Linked DNA regions of Homo sapiens: regions 2 and 3 are each linked to region 1. The links come from fine-mapping of genetic effects on gene expression. A gene starts in region 1. Each other region holds a variant in brackets. All regions are shown on one strand. Distances are between the middles of the regions.

Region 1 (2,765 bases):
AATTTGTCCACGACAGAGCCTCACCTGGACACACCTGTCTCACAGCAAACAAATAAAGAAACAAACAAAACATTCTGAAGACATCTGTAAAGGAAAGCTTCTATGCCTTGGAAGTAAACTGGTCTGTCTTCAAAAGCCCTCTCTCCAGCCTTCCCCACATGAACGCAAGCCCCCACCCCCAGCTACCCTGATTGCCAGGGTTCTTGACAGTCCGTCATAGTTACAAATTGCACCTTACACATGAAAATGATCTCCCCATTAACTGTTTTAACTTCACAGAGATTCCAGAGCAGTACAACCAACTTGACCTTCAGCTCCTTAAAGGCAGAGACTATATGTCCCATAGTTGTAATCCCAGCACCCAGTAAAATATTGTCAAGAAAATTGATGTTAAATAAATGTTTAAAATGGCTTATTTCAATTAATCCATTCATTATTCTATTAGAGCAGCCATTTCTCCAAAACTGGGTGAGACAGAGGGTACAGCTCAGACCTAAGATACTTTTGTTTTTTCTCATAGACCTATTTGTTGCAGGAAATTTCTGGGCCTCACCCTTCAGAATTTTAACCATGGCCGGGGCTCAGACACTGGCATGAGCATTCTGGAGTATCTGTCCTAACAATTAAGATATTATATAATTTGGAACCGAGCTTCAATTGGAAGATTTCCTGGTTATTTTCTATGCGGATAGGAGGTGCCTTCACTTGCTTATTAAAACCTAAGTGTCAAGAGAAGGACAAGGCCCTGGGAGTACAAAGAAAAACCCATATCACTGTCTTAAGTAACAGTTTTTGTGTGTGCGTGCATGTGTCTATGTGTTTGGGTGAGGAAGGGATACCAGTTGTTTAATTTTTTTTTCCTTTTTTAATGACAATTTTTGACCAGGGTTTCCATTTCTCCATCAACTCCCGGTCTCTGTTGTCTGTTTTTCACTCTAAAAGTGGATTGTGGCAATAGTGATGACAAGCTGGTTGCTGAAGTAAAAACGAAAAAAGAGAGGGTTTTGTTTTGTTTTGTTTTGTTTTGTTTAAGAACCCAGTATTTAAAGCCTGGAACCATGAGAGGTCGCGAATCTTGCCAGGAACAGCAGAGTCCACACCATATGTGCGCCCAACCCTTTGCTAAGATGGGTCACAGAACCAGACTTGGCCAATCTCAGGCTTCTGAGTTTAACAAGTCAAACTGGCAAATGAATAGCCACCTGAGCCTCTCTTAATGCAGTGCCTGAGCGGCATCATTTGGGAGCCTCAATCCTTTGACCTATCCTAGAACTAACTCCTAGAACCCTCTACAGTTTAAGGGAATCTGAGTCGGTGAAGGGACCAGAAAAACCCAGGAAGTAGAGAAAAAACATTGACATGCCTAGAAGCGCCGAAACCCCCGTCTCATCACCAATTGGCTAGGGGTACCCTGGTCCCTGCCTGTGATTGGCTGCCCCCACAAACACACCGCCCCCTGGGCGAAGCCAACCTGGGCCCAGCCGGCCGCTCATTGGCTGCCGTCCCGCGAGCGGGGCCTAGAGCCGGGTGTAGTATTCTGGGAGCTGCGGGCTACTGGGCCTGCGCTGCCGGGCTTTGGGTTCTGGGCCTCTGCCGCTCTCTGGCCCTAAGTGCTGAGCTGCCGGGAACGGCAGCTTCTGACGCTGGGCCATTGGACGCTGCGGAACCAGGCTTCTTCACTTTGAGTTTCCGCCGCGAAGCGCCAGTCCGGGCCGAGGAGGGAGGTGGGTAGATAACTCTGCCTTTTCTGAAGTCAGATCCCGCACGCTCACTTTACCCCCACCCGCCCGCTGTCCTGGGGACCTGCCCAACGCCCTGTGGCCAGGCCAGGAGCTGCTCCCTGACTCCGGAGGTTACCGCCCGCCCCTCGACTCCCTTCCCGCTGGGGTCCTAACTGGAAGTCTTCCAGGCCCCGCCCCCTTCTCAAATGCCCTTCTCAGACTCTCGCTGTACCCTACGGAAGGCACAGTCAAAGCAACCGAACGTTTAATTATTTGAATTTTCTCAAAGTAATTCATGTATAATAAAAAGTCAAACATTAAAGCAGGTCTTATTTTGAAGAGCAGTAACTACCCATCCCCAGATCTTTGCAGAGGCTGCCACTTTTAGTTTGTCCCCATTTAGATGTTTTTAGCACCCTAAATCAAAATAATATGCGTTCCACTGTATTTCTGGATTTATCATTTTGATATTTCTTTGCCTTACTTTCTTACTGCCACAATCTTGTCAATTTTCCATCGCTATTTTAGGTCTTCCATTTGTAGCTTTAAATAATGGGTATCAACTTCCATTTATTGTTTTATTGACTTTAGATGGTGTCTCTTAATGTCTCTACTGACTTAGCTAAGGATATTAACACATCCTCCACTTTCAATCTACTATCGGTTGGAACTCAACATTTACATTTAGTTTTCACGTATTCAACAAGTATTTGAGGCACTGTTCTTGGCACTGGGGAAATAGAAATGGACAAAACAGACAATGACCCTATCCACATGAAAAAGTTCTAGTATGGGAAGTAAGACAATAGACGAATACATGGCAAATGACGTCAAAGGCAGGATCATGTAGAAGTCATTTTCAGCTGGGAGAATAGCAGGCACCCAAGTCAGGTAGATTGAATGGACGAGGGGTTTGCGGGAGTGTGTGGAAGTTTATTCCTTTGCCTAGCTGGGCACAGGTGCTGTTTCAAGGAGAGATCTTGTTAACCGGGAGCCAGGATAGATTATTTAGTAAGTTAGTGATTTACCAAAATGAGGTTTTAG
Region 2 (2,765 bases), 25 kb after region 1:
AAGGAGTGGAGGCAAGTATGACAAATATTTCTTTTTCAGGCTAAATTGCTACTTCAACTCTTTTTCCTATTGCCATTAGATCATTTTGCTTCCAGAGAAATGGACATGTAGGTTGGTCACAGACCTGAACTCCAGATGCCAAGAATGGACTAGAATATGTTAAGGACACGTGATCTCTTTTCTCAAACCCTCATGGTTCTAATTTGTATCTCTCAAGGCCTCAGCCTAGTAGTTCACCACATCAATTGTGTGATTTGTGTTGACGTAACAGTAGTCATATATAGCCCAAGAACTGTCTTAGGTGTTCAGGCACTCTTAAATGATGTGTGCTTATTTGCCAAGCCTCAAGACTAGCTTGCTTTGTCTATTTCTTCCTGTGCCTCTCCTGAATAAAGGGTTTCCATAGTAAGAAGCTGCCATATCCCTACCCTTGTATACTGTCTCTAGTTTCCCCTTTTTAAGTTCTCATCGGGGCATCACTTCTACCTGAGTGATGAAATAGATCAGATTAATGGAATTCTATGCTCAGAATCCCATCTACTGCAGTAGACATTTTCTCTGTTAGCCAAGCACTAGAGGAACATTTACCAGGTTCTTAATCCTAACCAAAAGACATATATTTGCCCCTTCAATTAACCTCCTAGAAAGCCTAGCACTGATTGACTCCACACCCAGGTGCCAACAACAGCTGTGATAGGAGTCCTCAGTTGTTTTCTAAAAAGCCAAAATTCTTGGACATGATTACAAACTGTGGTCTGTATAAAAGAAATAAACCTACAACAAGAAGAAAATCCCTGAGTTTAAGAAATGCTATATCATGGAACAGATTGAATAGAGTAGTGAGCTCCACATCACAGTCAGTTTATAGGAGCTCACTGTAAACTGCTGGGACACTGGGCGAGACATCTTAAGTGATGGATCACAAGAAGATTAGGGAAAGCTTTTGAAGTAGAATGGTAGTAAAGAGTGAAAGAAAATTCAGGATATGCTTGAAACTGCCGCATGTGTTCTGAATGCCACAAACTTAGGCTTGTGCATTATTGCATAAAGGGCTGCAGAAAGCTTGAGGATCCAAACAGCCTCTTCCCCACTCACCTCTGATCCAGGATATTCCTACCCTGGCTGCCCTGTGTAAATTCACCTTTCTTCAGGAGGCAGCCTCAGCTGATGCTTGCCTCATCCCTCCTCTCACCAGCCCTGGAAACTAACTGGGCATACCTTTCATGCCTTCGAGAGTGGTGGGTTTTTTTTTAATTCTTCATTTACTTTTCTTCTTAATTAGCACTGCTAGAGATTTAATTGTTAGTAATCTTTTCAAAGAACAGGATATTTGATT[T/C]TGTTGGCTGTTTCTTTTTAAAATATTTATTTTACTCAATGTATTGCTACTGAAAATTTCTTGGCTAAGATCAAATGTCATCTCCATCAAGGATCTGTTGCCAGTGACTCTTTTTCTTCCTGTTTTACCAAAACATCTCACACAACTGCCTGTTCCTTCACTTTCTGGTTTTGTTTTTGAGCCATTATGGACATGCTGGAAAATGCACAAATCTCAAATGTTCAGTTAGATGAATAATTACAATGTGAACACATGAACACACCTATGTAGGAACAAATCAAGATATACATACTATTGCTCTCAGGCTGGTAAGGCATACTGTTTTCAGAATGCTCTGTCCAAGTTCTCCTAAGACATATTTCTAGCACTGCACCTGCCTTTGTTTTTAATCCTGTGGAAACATTCACGTGCAGATCTGGAGGGCCAATCACCGAAAAGTAGCTTTAAAAAGTTCGACCGGACATGGTGGCTCAGCCTGTAATCCCAGCACTTTGGGAGGCCGAGGTGGTAGGATTGTCTGAGCTCAGGAGTTCAGCCTGGACAACATGGCAAAACCCCGTCTCTACTAAAAATACAAAAAATTAGCTGGGCATGGTGGCGAGCACCTGTAGTCCCAGCTACTCAGGAGGCTGAGGCATGAAAATTGCTTGAATCTGGAAGGTGGAGGCTGCAGTGAGCCAAGATCATGCCACTGCACTCCAGCCTGTATGACAGAATGGAGACACCATCTCAAAAAAAAAAAAAAAAAAAAAATGAAAAATAAATAAATATAAAAATAAAAAGTTTCTTAATGTCAATAACTCATGATTCACAAAGCACAAGACCTGTGAGGATTTTTCATTTCTATTAAAAGAGTGGGAAGTACATAATTCAAGTTGAAATTGTCTTAAAGGTAAAAGAACTAATGCATAACTCATTTGAGTAGAGCCTTTCCCTTTATGACAACCCTGTGCCTTTTCCTGAGTACCTCCACTGTCCAACCAAGCATACTCCCAGTCACCCCTATTGCTTGGATTATTTTCTTATAACTTCTCTTGGTCCCTGAAAACTGTTACTCCACCAGCTCAAAATTGGACTTACCCTTTCCTGTCTCTGCTTTGAAGCAAAGTAACCATATTTCCGTTCCCTCTCCACCTCCCTCATCCAAACATCATTTCCATAAGGTCTTGATAGCAGATATACCACCAGACCTAGACAGCCCTATATGGGAGGCATGAGGCCTTATAACTTTCATTCTGGGGTGACCCAGCCTTGATGTCAGGTCATCAGCCCAACATTCGATCTCTATCAGCCCAACACCTGATTCCCAGGTCAGTTACCTACATCCTTGGAATCTTCTCTATTCAACTTTCCCTGATGGGTTGATGCCTGGTAGTCTACATTTCTTTTACTCAGAAGAAGAGGGATTTGTACAGGACTCTTCAAGAGG
Region 3 (2,765 bases), 42 kb after region 1:
GGGAGAAGCAGATCTAAGAAGAATTCTTCATGAATAAGTAACCAGTGCTGAGAATATGAAAAAATGGTGGGAGCACTATTGCCTAAAGTCACTCTCTACCTGCTTTTCATGGCTTTCATGAGCACAGGGCTTCCCTGCTGCCCTGAATGTATTTCTGGGGACATACGAACCAGGGCTCTGAGTTCATGCAAGTGTTAACTAGGCACTGTTTGTTCCAAGGCAATGCAGGCGACTAACAAGGCCCAAACTCTCAGTTTGCTTTCTATTGCATCTTCCCATAGCTGTGCTTGAATATCTCCTGTTTCTGGCCAAGGCTACACCTCAAAAACTTACCATTACTCTTCAGCCCAGCCTTCTTCGAAGTCTAATTTGTGTTTTTGTACAGGTGGTACTTCTCAGACTGACCTTGGTAAAAAGGAGCTAGCAGTTACGCTAGTTTGCCACAAACCTCACACCTAGAAAGTTTTGGGGATGCTTAGAACTCAGTCTTTAAAAGCTGCTCTTAACCCTGTATGTTCAACTTTGATTCTAATAGGCCCTTCTAAGATTCGTCCATGTTTGTGGCATTTGTGTAATGGATTCTGTATTACAGACGAATACTGACTTTTTTTTTTTTTTTTTGAGGTAAATGAATCTACTTGTAAAACGCTAAGCTTTTAGCCAAAGTTATTCAATAGGACTCAAGGCATAGAGGTTGCAGTCTGAGTAGGAAGCTATGTTTCACTGGAGAAGAAAATTTCTCAACCCTGGTAAGGTCATGGTTGGGACAGACTCCTGTAACAGTGAACAGATTTATCAAGAAAACAAGTTTATTAATGTGTCCTGTCGTGCATATCACAAGGCCAAAACTTCAAAAGATAACCCTAGGCTTAGACCTTTAGGCTTATGTAGCATCTCCAGCATGCCCCCCTACTCCCCCCCTCCCCCGCCCCCCACCGCAAAAAAATAAAAAAATATACTTGTAGAGAAACAACAAAACAAAGTGACCTTTAGGCTTCCAAAGGCAGGAAACTGGAATGGTAAATACCTGAGAAGAAACTATAATGGAGTAAGGTTTGTAGACTGATAGCCTATTTTTAGGCAGAAAGTGGGGAGGAAAGAGCTCTCCTGTTTGCTGCTTAATTGCTTTAGTTCAAACTTCTTATGTTGAGGCATATTTTGGGGTAACATAATCTGGTTTCCTTCAATCTCATGTATGAATTAAAAGTTCAGCACTGTCACTAAGGATGGGAAAAGACCATTAGCTATAACTGTCCTAATCTCGAAGCCTTAGTTTTGGGCTGACATTTTCCTTTTAGGTAAGAGCCATAAAATAATGAACATCTGCCAAGAGTGGCTCTGGAGTAGGGGGTAGAGTAGCCTTAGGGAACACAGTGGGGCCTCCACACAAACTATCCACACAACTAGAAATTCAGCTGAGTGACCGAAAGACTGAATTTCCTGAGTTAAGATAAATGTGAAAACTTGAGTATTTCTCGAAGAACCCAGAACTATCCAGTTTTGTCCCAGCAAAGGTCAAGCACTTAGTCACATTTCTTATATCCTCCCACTTGTTCTGAGTCCAAGAATTGGGAAG[G/A]GGAGAAAGGAGCAGTTCAGAATAAAAGCCTTAAAGCCAGAAGTATTGAGTTCTGTATCCATAACTAGGATTAACATAAAAATAAGCTCCTAATGGAGAAAATCAAGCTGGATTGTAACTGTCAATCTACTAGTCCAGAGAAGTTAACAGCTTATTCCTATAGCTGTGCTTTCATGCCCTTTAAGTGTATTAACCGCATGTAATGCCTATAAACTTCAAGGGACCTGCTCTGCATTTAGGCTGTACCTTGAACTCAAAATGCTATAGGAGATGACTAACACCAAGTCATTCAGATTTATATCTGCACTAGAGCTGACCTCCCTAGAGTGAAAAAGGGAAAGCATTGAGAAATTGAGTGTTGTGATGGTTACATGGCGTTTTTCTTTTTTTTTTTTAATTCTGGGATACATGTACAGAATGTTACGTAGGTATACATATGCCATGGTGGCTTGCTGCACCCATCAACCTGCACCTATCAACCCATCTAGGTTTTATGCCTTCCATGCATTGGGTATTCATCCTACTGCTCTCCCTCCCCTAGCCCCCTACCCCTCGACAGGCCCCAGTATGTGATATTCCTCTCCCTGTGTCCATGTGTTCTCATTGTTCAACTCCCATGCATGAGAACATGAGGCGTTTGGTTTTCTGTTCCTGTTAGTTTGCTGAGAATGATGGTTTCCAGCTTCATCCATGTCCCTGCAAAGGACATGAACTCATTTTTTATGGCTGCATAGTATTCCATGGTGTACATGTGCCAAATTTTCTTTATCCAGTCCATCATTGATGGGCATTTGGGTGGTTTCCAAGTCTTTGCTATTGTGAACAGGTCCGCAATAAACATACATATGCGTGTGTCTTTCTAGTAGAATGACTTTATCATCCTTTGGGTATATACCCAGTAATGGGATTGCTGGGTCAAATGGTATTTCTGGTTCTAGATGCTTGAGGAATTGCCACACTGTCTTCCATGATGGTTGAACTAATCTACACTCCCACCAACAGTGTAAAAGCATTCCTACTTCTCCACATCCTCTCCAGCATCTGTTGTTTCCTGACTTTTTAAAAATCGCCAGTCTAACTGGTGTGCGATTGTATCTCATTGTGGTTTTGATTTGCGTTTCTCTAACGACCAGTAATGAGCTATTTTTCGTGTTTGGCCTCATAAATGTCTTCTCAGAAGTGTCTGTTC

Alleles and levels. Alleles are on the strand shown, and positions count from the first base shown. SD is a standard deviation of normalised expression in the study named. Not every link is listed here.
For the expression in subcutaneous fat of the gene that starts at base 1,520 in region 1, allele A in region 3 goes with a higher level than allele G (moderate effect, 0.42 SD a copy in TwinsUK).

The links. PIP is the estimated chance that this variant, and not a neighbour inherited with it, causes the effect.
Region 2: its variant is the best candidate, but not a certain one, in a credible set for the expression of TRIM68 in whole blood (INTERVAL, PIP 0.53).
Region 3: its variant is the best candidate, but not a certain one, in a credible set for the expression of TRIM68 in subcutaneous fat (TwinsUK, PIP 0.55).

What each region holds. Positions count from the first base shown.
Region 1 is chr11:4,606,986-4,609,750 of GRCh38, reverse strand. TRIM68 (tripartite motif containing 68) reads left to right here and starts at 1,520. Exons shown (of 7, transcript NM_018073.8): 1 at 1,520-1,724. RefSeq lists silencers at 1,356-1,565, 1,876-1,955.
Region 2 is chr11:4,581,759-4,584,523 of GRCh38, reverse strand. It overlaps OR52I2 (olfactory receptor family 52 subfamily I member 2), which reads right to left. Exons shown (of 2, transcript NM_001405760.1): 1 at 2,660-2,765. Among named protein-coding and RNA genes, the nearest start is that of OR52I2, 1.4 kb to the right of the region's middle. The variant T/C (reference allele first, on the strand shown) is at 1,337.
Region 3 is chr11:4,564,625-4,567,389 of GRCh38, reverse strand. No RefSeq gene overlaps it. Among named protein-coding and RNA genes, the nearest start is that of C11orf40, 12 kb to the left of the region's middle. The variant G/A (reference allele first, on the strand shown) is at 1,577.